Regions from separate parts of the Homo sapiens genome. Here region 2 is linked to region 1. The links come from fine-mapping of genetic effects on gene expression. A gene starts in region 1. The other region holds a variant in brackets. All regions are shown on one strand. Distances are between the middles of the regions.

Region 1 (5,394 bases):
ATTTGCCTATTTGATTATGAATCTCTGTTTGGTCACTGGGCATAATCTTACATGGACCTCATTCTAGACACATATATCCATAAGCAACAAAAATAAAGTAATTGGGATCCATCACAATAACTATGAACAAAGTAACTATCCACATGATCTGGAATTTGCCCATATTTGTGGCTTGTTTTCTGTATACTGTTTTTGATGGAGATATTATAGTCCCCTAATAATACATATACCTACTTCAGCTTAAGAAAAAACTATATTTTGCCAAATTTTGTAATCAGACTGGGTTTAAATACCAGCTCTGATGACTCATAACTCTGATCTCGAGAAATTTACTTACCATCTCTAAACATTAATTTCTCAATTAGGGAAGTGATATGACAAAGTTGCTGTGAAGTCAAATGAAGGAATGAATGCAAAATCCCAACCCTTTACATATTACCTCTGTTCTCAATTAATCATTGGCTTGAACTGAACATTTTTAACATGGTTCCCTGCTAAAGGTGTTTTTACATATAGTAAGACCTAATAGATAATATTATGTTACATAATCTATAATTATTATATATAAAACTATATAAAATTATATAGTACCTATTTAGACATATAAAAAGGGAAGTTTTTTAATGAAAAATTAGATTGGCTGAAGAGTGTGGAAATCATCACATAGGGAAGTGGTCAGCACTGTGGATATACACCAAACAGTATTACAGAGACATACTGAAAATAAAGCACACTGACAGAAAGAAACCTCATTAGGATAGAATTTTGGGAGATTGGTGTCTTGTTATTCCCAGAGTCTGACTTTTCTAATCACGTAGCATTGTCAGGGATATCTAAATTTTAAACTTCAGATTTTGTACAAAAAAACCTAAAAGGACTATATTTTAAAATAAGAAGCATGTACAAATAATTGTAAAGGAAAGAGTGTGAGTTTTGTAGTCTCCAGTTCTGTGTCAGTAAGAATTTGATGAGGAATAGCCAATAGCATTTATGCTGGTCCAGGCTGGATCAAATTGTGATCGTACTTCTAGTCTTCAAGCTGCCTGGTTAGAAATTATGCAGCTTACTTTGATGCCTGTCCTACTACTACTATTAGCCTTTTAGTGGTTACCTTAAGAATAACTGAATAATACTGTTACTTTGCATCTCTCAAAGACCGTGCGCTGTTCCCGCATACTTTCTTGCAGACGTATTGTCTTCTGAAGGATGGTGCCCATGGGCACAGCAATTTGGGGCATCTTTTGGTAGGAAGCATGATTTCTCCTGTTTGGGCACAAAAGAGTGACTACGGAATATAAGCTAAACACCTTCTCCCAGAAATATCAGTTGTAAAACTTAGCTCATTAATGTAATGTTGAACGTTTTCATGTGAGTCATACTTGAACTTCTTGAATGTGAGTAAATAACGGAGTTGAATTGTATAAAACCCTGATGGATGGCAGAAGGGAAAGAACATCCCTTTCATCTGATCCATGCCTGAGATTCCTTCCCTCTACTATACTACTGGAAATAAACAACTTGTCTGGTGCTCTAAAAATTAATGCTATTATCATTATAGAGAGAACAGGAGTGAGTGCTTTTAGGTTATTACTTGTTCTTACTAAGGCATCATATTCTTTCTTCACGTGTTTTGTGTTTGAGGCTAGGGATAAAGGTACAGGAAAAAGGATCTAAGAAAAAAACTCGAATCTCTAAACATGGAGTCTTTTTTTTTTTTTTTTTTTTTGAGGTGGAGTCTCACTCTGTTGCCCAGGCTGGAGTGCAGTGGTGCGATCTCTGCTCACTGCAACCTCCGCCTCCTGGGTTCAAGCAATTCTTCAGCCTCAGCCTCCCGAGTAGCTGGGATTACAGGCGCATGCCTGGCCAATTTTTGTATTTTTAGTAGAGACTAGTTTCACCATGTTGGCCAGGCTGTTCTAGAGCTCCTGACCTCAAGTGATCCAGCCACCTCGGCCACCCAAAGTGCTGGGATTACAGGCATGAGCCACCACACCTAGCCAAACATGGAGTCTTTACTCAACATTATAGTAACGTGAAAGAGGAGATCATGAGAATTAATGTATGTTTTAGAAGGCATAGATTACTTATAAAAAAGGAAAGATCAGGCTGGGCACGGTGGCTCGCGCCTGTAATCCCAGCACTTTGGGAGGCCAAGGCGAGCGGACCATGAGGTCAGGGGATCAAGACCATCCTGACCAACATGGCGAAACCCTGTCTCTACTAAAATACAAAAAATTAGCCGGGTGTGATGGCACACGCCTGTAGAACCTGGGAGGCAGAGGTTGCAGTGAGCGGAGATCACACCACTGCACTCCACCCTGGTGAGACAGCGAGACTCCATCTCCAAAAAAAAAGGAAAGCTCAATCTGCTGTAAATTATGTGCTTGTTTCAACAACCCTTGTTTCTTTTCCTTTTCACTTCTCTTTTTTTTTTAAAGCGGCCTAAATGGGGTGAAGAGTGAGTTATCTGACAAATTTAGATTTTGCAAACCTGTGCATTGATGAGAGTGCTATTGAAACACATTAAGAAAGATTTTCAACGCAGGAATGTGTCATTTCCTTTCTTCATGTACCAGATGCTGAAATACTATGAGATAAAGATTTTAGGTTTCAATTGTAAAGAGAGAGAAGTGGATAAATCAGTGCTGCTTTCTTTAGGACGAAAGGTAAAGAAAAAAAAAGGCTTATTTTAATGTTTTTTCCAGAATTGTTTCTATTGATTGTTATGTGTGTACTCTGTGTGTGTGTGTGCATGCATGTGTGTGATATATATTTGTGTGTCTGTGTGTGTATGATGAGATGAATGCTTTATTGTATCAGCAATAATTTGGTTTGGTTTTTTTCGATAATCAAAAAATAGGGATTTCTGCTAAATTTTCCATGAGTGAAAAACATATATGTTCACAAGTACATATGAAATACACTAAATGCTTTGTAGTTTGAACCAGCAATGGGGTTTTTTCATATAATTAAGCATATTTTGTTTAAAATACTGGTTTTATTCAAAGTATAATTTGACATATTTCACCTATTCTCCTTTCATAACTTTTCATGGAACATTTTTGGCTTTAATCTAATGCCTTTTATTATCTTCCCTTGATTATATAGCAAATATTGGCTGGGTATCTACTATATGCACTTCATTGAACTAGATGTGGGGAAAGGATACAAAAAATAAGATATAGTTCTTTTTGTGCTCCGGAATCTTATGATTTAAAACATATCCCCAAATAGGCATAATGTAATTTGAGCACCTTAAGTAGTATGAAAGTACTATAGATAATTACTAGCACCTTAAGTAGTATGAAAATGCTATAGATAATTACTATGAAAATATAGGCGAGGCCAAAATTACTTCTATGTGAAAAAAGTCTATCAAAAATAAATCTTCATGGAGATGCTAGAAATCTGATTAATCTTGAAGACTAAGTAAGATTCACACAGCATATAATGGGAGGTTGGCATTTGCACTGACCAGGTAAAAATACTTATAGAAAAACCATAGAACTGAGATTACAGATGTTTTATGCAGTGATTAGCCGTTTTATGCAGTGGGTAAGAGCTAATCTTCTGGGAGTAGACTGCCTGTGTTCAAATTCCAGCTCCCCTGCTCCCTAGTTGAGTAACTTGACTAGTTACTTACACATTTCAGTTCCCTAACCTGTAAAATGGAGAAAATACTACTTGTACCTCATGAAGATTCCGTGAGAACAAAATAAGAAAAGCTCATATTTAAAAAAAAAGTGATATTTTAAAATAACAGGGATTCATATATTGATGGTTTTCTGTGTACCAGGCAATTTACAAAAATTATTTTTAATTCTCGCAATAATTCTTTAAATTTATATTGTGATCATATTTTACATATCTAAAGAAAGTTCAATTCAAATAAGTTAAAATATTTGCCTAAGATCACACAGCTAAATGATGTCACAGTCAATACTCAAATCTAGATTTCAGATTCAAAAGTTGATGCTCTTTCTTCTTTGCTACCAAGGATGAATATCAGTGACATCAGGCACAATATAAATATTTCCATTTCTTACTAAAATCTGTCTTACAGACGGGTTCCTTAAGCATAAAGCTGTTAGTTTCACAAATAATCTTAATTTAATTTTCATTTTATATACACATTCAACTGCTGTTACAAAAATCAAAGTTATTATTTTATATAATAAGGAGGATCACAAGCTTATTATTTATTCCAAATGTTGAAGATAAAGTTGGCCTTAAGAATATGATGGGCCGGGCACGGTGGCTCACGCCTGTAATCCCAGCACTTTGGGAGGCCAAGGCAGGTGGATTACCTGAGGTCGGGAGTTCAAGACCAGCCTGACCAACATGGAGAAACCCTGTCTCTACTGAAAATACAAAATTAGCCGGGCGTGGTGGTGCATGCTTGTAATCCCAGTTACTCCGGAGTCTGAGGCAGGAGAATCACATGAACCCAGGAGGCGGAGGTTGTGGTGAGCCAAGATCACGCCATTGCACTCCAGCCTGGGCAACAAGAGCGAAACTCCATCTCAAAAACAAAAAGAAAGAAAGAAAAAAGAAAGAATATGATAAAAAAACTAAATAGGGAAAAATCTTAGGAAAACGAATGCATGTCAAGTATGAAAAGACAGATGGTAAATATGTATTAAACATAAAGAGCTGATTCACATGCTTAGGTAAAAGAAACCTGTGGGGATGTATAAGCAGTGAATATGAATAGATAATAACCCAAGAAGAACAATGTATGACAGACAATTACAGTGAAATCTCTCTCTTACATTAATAATAAAAAATAAAAATGAAAACCACTTTTAGGTATTATTTAACTCTTATCAAAATCTAAATGATTCTAAAATAAGCTTTATTATTCAATGGTAGTGAATTTTGCTTGAAACTGCCATATTCACATATAAGTCTGGAATATTTATAAATTTATGTTATCTTTTTAAAGATCACTAAGACAGTAGAGCCCAAGAAGTTCAAAATAGTTTTCCTTTCACTTTTTAGTTTCACATATGATGAATTATCCTAAAGAAACATTTTAAAAGAAGAAAGCTAAATTATGAAAATAATGGCCGGGGCAGTGGCTCACATCTGTAATCCCAGCACTTTGGGAGGCCAAGGAGGGTGGATCACCTGAGGTCAGGAGTTTGAGACCAGCTGGATGAACGCGGTGAAAAATACAAAAATGAGCTGGGCATGGTGGCAAACGCCTATAATCCCGCTACTCGGGAAGCTGAGGCAGGAGAATCACGTGAACCCAGGAGGCAGAGGTTTCAGTCAGCTGAGATCACACCATTACACTCCAGCCTGGGTGACAAAGCAAGACTCAATCTCAAAAAAAAAAAAAAAAAGGAAATATTTATAACATCATTATTTATATCAGTGAAGCATTGCCCC
Region 2 (5,394 bases), 440 kb before region 1:
TTGCAGTGCTGCCAGGAAAGAGCTTTAGGATTTTGTTTGTTTGTTTGTCTTCTCAGCTACATAGCAGAGCATAGTAGCCAACTTTATTCCTCAAAATGTTAGAGAAATAGTTTTGTTTTTTTTTTTACTATGGGGATTTTAAAATGGATACTGTATTGTTGCTGTATTATTAATTCAACTAAGAAGTTGGTTGAATAGCGTTTGGATTACTGAAAACTGGAATTTATGTACATGTAGAGATTCCTTTAATTTGTTTTCCTACAGTTGTGAAAGTGAAGCCTTATTTTGTTGAAAAATTTGAAAGCACACAAAAAAAACACAAAACCTATGTATTTTGGGGCAACAATACTATCATGTAATTCCTAATTATGTGATCCTGAGATGCTTGTTGCTTCTTTCCATTTTTTCTTTAAAGTAATTGAAATAATTAAAATGGGAATATTTATGTTATATATTCATACTTTTAAATTATTTTCCATTTAACATTATATCATAAGCATTTCTTATTTTCTCAAAACGTCTTTGAAAAATCACAAGTTTTAATTACTGCAACATATTTACTTCTTTGGAAATAACAGTGTAATCAATGTTTGTTAATTTTTCTCTTTATCGTTAACTTTTACAAATAATATTTTAGTAAACAACATTATTTAAATCTTTGCTTAAATCTTCCGTTTTTCTTGAGGTGAATTTATGGGTATTCTTAAAGAATAGCGTTACGATTATTTTGCTCCAATAAAGAGAGAAATTAGCAGAATGTAAACATTTAAAATATTTAAGTTTATATCACTCCTTGAGACATGGCATATATTCTTATAAAATCACTAAATACTTTTTGCTTTCTTGTTTCTAAGTTTCTAACTTTTACTAATGAAGACGAACAAATACAATACAACATAAAATAAGTTTAGGAGTGGAAAACTAAAGCCACTTAGGGGAGAGGTGTTTCTGCTGGTGTGATCTTTAGAGGGAAGAGGAGGGTCTTACTTCCATGAATGGAAGCAGGAAGCAGTTTAAGGAACAGAAATGCAAATGTAGGGGAAGGGAATGGGGTGGATAGACTCAGCCATGAGCTTTCTGGCCCAAACGTCTATGGGGCATACCCTGCTAGTTGAGAGGGTGCTTTGAAGATAATTCTCCCTTAACATAAGCTAATGAAGTTTTGGATCCAGCAAATAACTAATTTCACGGAAGTACTTACTAGCATAAAACTTATTACCAGCCACCAGCCATCTTGATGCAGACTGTGAGAACATCTCTTGGTGCCATAAAGAATTGGACAGTAAGGGCTTCAGGGTTTCTGCACACTTCTTTCTTTGTCCTCTAAATTGCCAATAGACACGTCTATTCTTCCAGGGTTAAAGGGTAAAAAGTATGTAATTCTATCTGCCCATTTAGGGAGATTAGGATACATTATTTATCACAGTAAATTTTTAACTGCCTGCAATGGATGGAATTAGAACAGCATATGAATATATTCAAAGCATTTGATTTTATAGTATTTATAAAGTATTTTTTTAATTTTTAATTTTAGTGGGTACATTGTTTTATATATTTATGGGGTACGTGAGATACTTTGATACCAGCATGTAATGCAGAATAATCACATCAGGATAAATGCAGTGTCTATCCCCTCAAGCATTTATCTTTTGTTACAACCAATACAATTATATTCTTTTAGTTATTTTAAAATGTACAATTAAATTATTATTGACTATAGTCACCTTGTTGTGCTATCAAATACTAGTCCTTAATAATTCTTTCTAGTTATTTTTGTACTTGTTTACCATCCCCACTTTCTCCCCCAACCCCCACTACACTTCCCAGTCTCTGGTAACCATCCTTCTACTTACTCTCTATCTTCATGGGTTCAATTGTTTTAATTTTTAGCTCCTACAAATAAGTGAGAACATAGAAAGCATTATTTTGATTCCAATATTTAAATAGATATTTTTCCTTAAGTGCAGAAAAACAAAAAATGAAAAGATTACCTTGACCCCATATCATCCAGCATATGTTACTGTTTACAATTTGATATAAATATATTTGATAAAATATATTTCTTCCAGTCTTCTAAATACACATTTTATTAATGATCTAAGGCTTAATTATGCTGCAGTAACAGAAAATTTAAAAAAAGATAAACAATGGTTTCTTGCTCAGACTACATGCGTGAGACCAGCTGGTGCTCATCTCCATAAGATCTTCAGTCCAGAACCCAGGCAATCAGCAGCTTCACATGTGGCAGTGCGGGGGAGGAAAGAGA[T/C]AGAAGAAAATGAGACAAGATTTGCACCTGGTGCATGGAAGAGGCTCGTGTAACTTCTGTTTACATTTCATTGGCTAATTCAAGTCACGTGGTGGAACCTGGCATTAAAGAGGCAACCTAGCGTGTGGTCAAACTAGAGTGAAGGGGTGTGGATGCAAAAATTAACAAATCTTTCCATGATTGTGGAGCAGCTCTATCATGATTGAGAATTCAGCGCCAGTAGCAGCAGGGATCTTACTGTGTAATGACGGGTCATCAAAGCCAGGTAGAGCTTTGTAAGATTTTTTTACACTAACATTCATACTGGATCTTTATATTCTTTAGGAAAATAGCAGAATAACAGAATTTTAAGGTCAACTAGAATGAGTACAATAAATTTGTTTGTGGAATATATTAATATCTAAAAATAACTTTGCCGTATAAAGTAATGCCAATGTAATTTTTTCTTTTCATTACTGCATTTTGAATCAAAACAAATTTGGCACGTTAAGCAGTATAGGAAACAACTTGAATTTAGCAAAGAAACTTGTAGGCAATTCAAGTAAGCAAAACACTGTATCACAGCAATCTAGCCTAATTTATTCTCATTGGTTCCTCTTATTGTCACATATTGTTCCATTCATTCCATGATAAATTGTACCTCTCTGGGTCAGAAAAAAAGTATTCAAATAGAAATAATTTCAGCAATTTTCTGATGTCACACTCTGTTTTTTCTTCCACGTTTTGAATTATTTTATTGGGACGCATACCCCTATGAGCTCAAGTCTTATCACCAAAGCAGGTTGCTAACTAACTGGAGTTTCATATTATGCTGTTGTCATCATCTTCTTAGATGTTGTATCTTTAAGACAGTTTCTATTTGGCTAATGGCATTCTTTATCTCCTGTAGTTTAGGCTTACCTTAAGTGAACCAATATTGAATGTATTATCCTATTTTCACTATTTCCAATAAAGGCATGGCCTCAATCATAGATATATTAGGCTTCTTTTAGCAGAGCTAGTGCAAGTATAAAGGTAGAAAGAGAAAAACTACTTGGCAAACAGCTTAGTGAATTTTTGCATTGTTTACTTGAAAATGAATCTTGTTTTTGGTGGCCATTTCTCAGAAAACTTTACTATCACATATTTTTATGTCCTAATTATTCAATTCAGGTTTCTTTAGTTATAAAATCAGCAAAAAGGTCTGTTTCTATTTATTTTCACATAGCTAAGACTTATAAAATTGTGAATTTAGAAATTGCTAGATTGGAATTAATTTCATCTTATAAACCCAGCATACTCATTTAATAATAGAATCAAGATAAACAATTATAGGATAGACGAAAAAAATAGAAATTGAACTAGAACATTGAACAGAGTGCTAACTACAAGTTCTAACATTTTTGTTTTTGTTTTACATGTTCAAATATTCATGCATGCATAAAGTATTACGTGGAATTTAAATAATTTCTTTAAAATGGAAATATGTTGTATTTAATGGACACTAATTTGTTTTAAAACTACGGAATGAATCCAGGAAAGAGGTGCATGATTTAGTAGTTGCCTAAATTGTACCTTCTACAGATGTTCTGAGTTTATTAAAATTAGTTATTATTAATTAGTTGCATAAAATATTAGCATATCAAACTAAAACCAAAGGATCAAAACTCAAAATGTTAGGTAGATAAAAACTCTCATGGTTTTTTGTTCCTTCAGGGATTTATAAGAACTTTCAGTCTTTTGCAGTGCTATTGTGAAACCAACAACTGGTTGTTATTTTGAATCTCAAAAAGGAATTCGAATTTGGGGTCCTAACAGGAAATGACATTTACCCAAAGGAATTCAAATAAGGAAATATTTGAAAAAGTAAGAGGAAGATATATTCAAAGCAATATCTTTTTCTCTTTTGGAATATGGAATGCAGCTAATGATAGGTGTAGTTGTATTTCCTGACGTTAATTTTGTGTTACAGGTGAGGAGCCAGTTAAGAATGGTCTAGTCTGGGTGTTAATTATGCACAGAAATCCACTGGCTTTGTTTTGAAGATAGCTGGGAATTTGGGATAGGATTAGAGGGGTTATAATTGCGAAGGAAAGCCCTTGCTTTGACGTCTCTGACTTAGGTATCTATCTAAATATTGCAAAATAATTATAATAGGTGTAACCTGAACATTGGCTTTAGGCATAGTATGATTTTAGAGATGAGGAAAAGTTGTCCATATATGAATATCTGCCAACATTTCCCCCATCATCTCAGTGTTAACTTTCTTTTCTGAGAAATGAATTCATTCATTCTTTCTACAACCAGAAGTAAGGAAGATTCATCAGTTTTAGGTGGAGTAGAGAGGAAGATTCAGGTGAATTTCTTTTGGACAGGTGAGAAATTTCTAAAGCAGGGCCTCAAATTGGAACTTGTGTATGTTGCTGTGCAGGGAGGTGTAAGCAAGCTGGGTGGTCAGCCTGGGAAAGTCAGGTCTTTTGTTGCATCACAATTTATAGCCCTGACTTTGGGATATGTGTAATAATTTCGCAAGTATTTTCAGTCTCTTGGGCACAGTGGCTCTAAATGAAAGCGTGAAGAAGGTAGTTACATCAGCATACTCCCACCTGCTTTAAAATATTTTCTCCTTTCCCCACTTTGGCAAATGGCCTAAAGGTGCTGCTAGTTTCCATGTCCCACCTGGTATCCTAAAACTTTTCACCAGCTCTCTTTGATCTACGTTCCTCAGTGTCTTTTGAAGCCTGCTTTAAATCCTGGTATTCAATACTAATTCATTGACCATCGTATGGTCAATACCATACCAAGGATCTGATAAAATAATACACACTTATATACCAGTAGGTAAAAATATCTTTCTTTCTAGGATATTTTGCATTTTAATGTAGAGCACTCATGATTAACTTTAAAAGACCTAATGTGGTGGAATTTGAGGAACAAGGGTAGTCCACTTAGAGAGACGGCTGGAAAAGAGTAGGTTCTAGGAACTCCCAAATAGTTGTTTAGTTAGCTTTCATTTAATGTGGGCTCTATATTTGGGAATATAAGAGAAACCAAAATGTAAAAATAAAATATTGCTGTTATGAGGACATTAGGAGATGGGCATTAGGACAGTTAACATGCTTCAAAAATACAGGCTTAAATATGCTTTG

What was found. PIP is the estimated chance that this variant, and not a neighbour inherited with it, causes the effect.
Region 2: its variant is the best candidate, but not a certain one, in a credible set for the expression of MSR1 in monocytes (TOPMed, PIP 0.72).

Annotation. Positions count from the first base shown.
Region 1 is chr8:16,189,870-16,195,263 of GRCh38, reverse strand. It overlaps MSR1 (macrophage scavenger receptor 1), which reads left to right and starts at 2,613. Exons shown (of 10, transcript NM_138715.3): 1 at 2,613-2,666.
Region 2 is chr8:16,625,543-16,630,936 of GRCh38, reverse strand. The region is part of intron 6 of LOC101929028 (a long non-coding RNA gene); the gene reads left to right. Among named protein-coding and RNA genes, the nearest start is that of FGF20, 370 kb to the left of the region's middle. The variant T/C (reference allele first, on the strand shown) is at 2,267.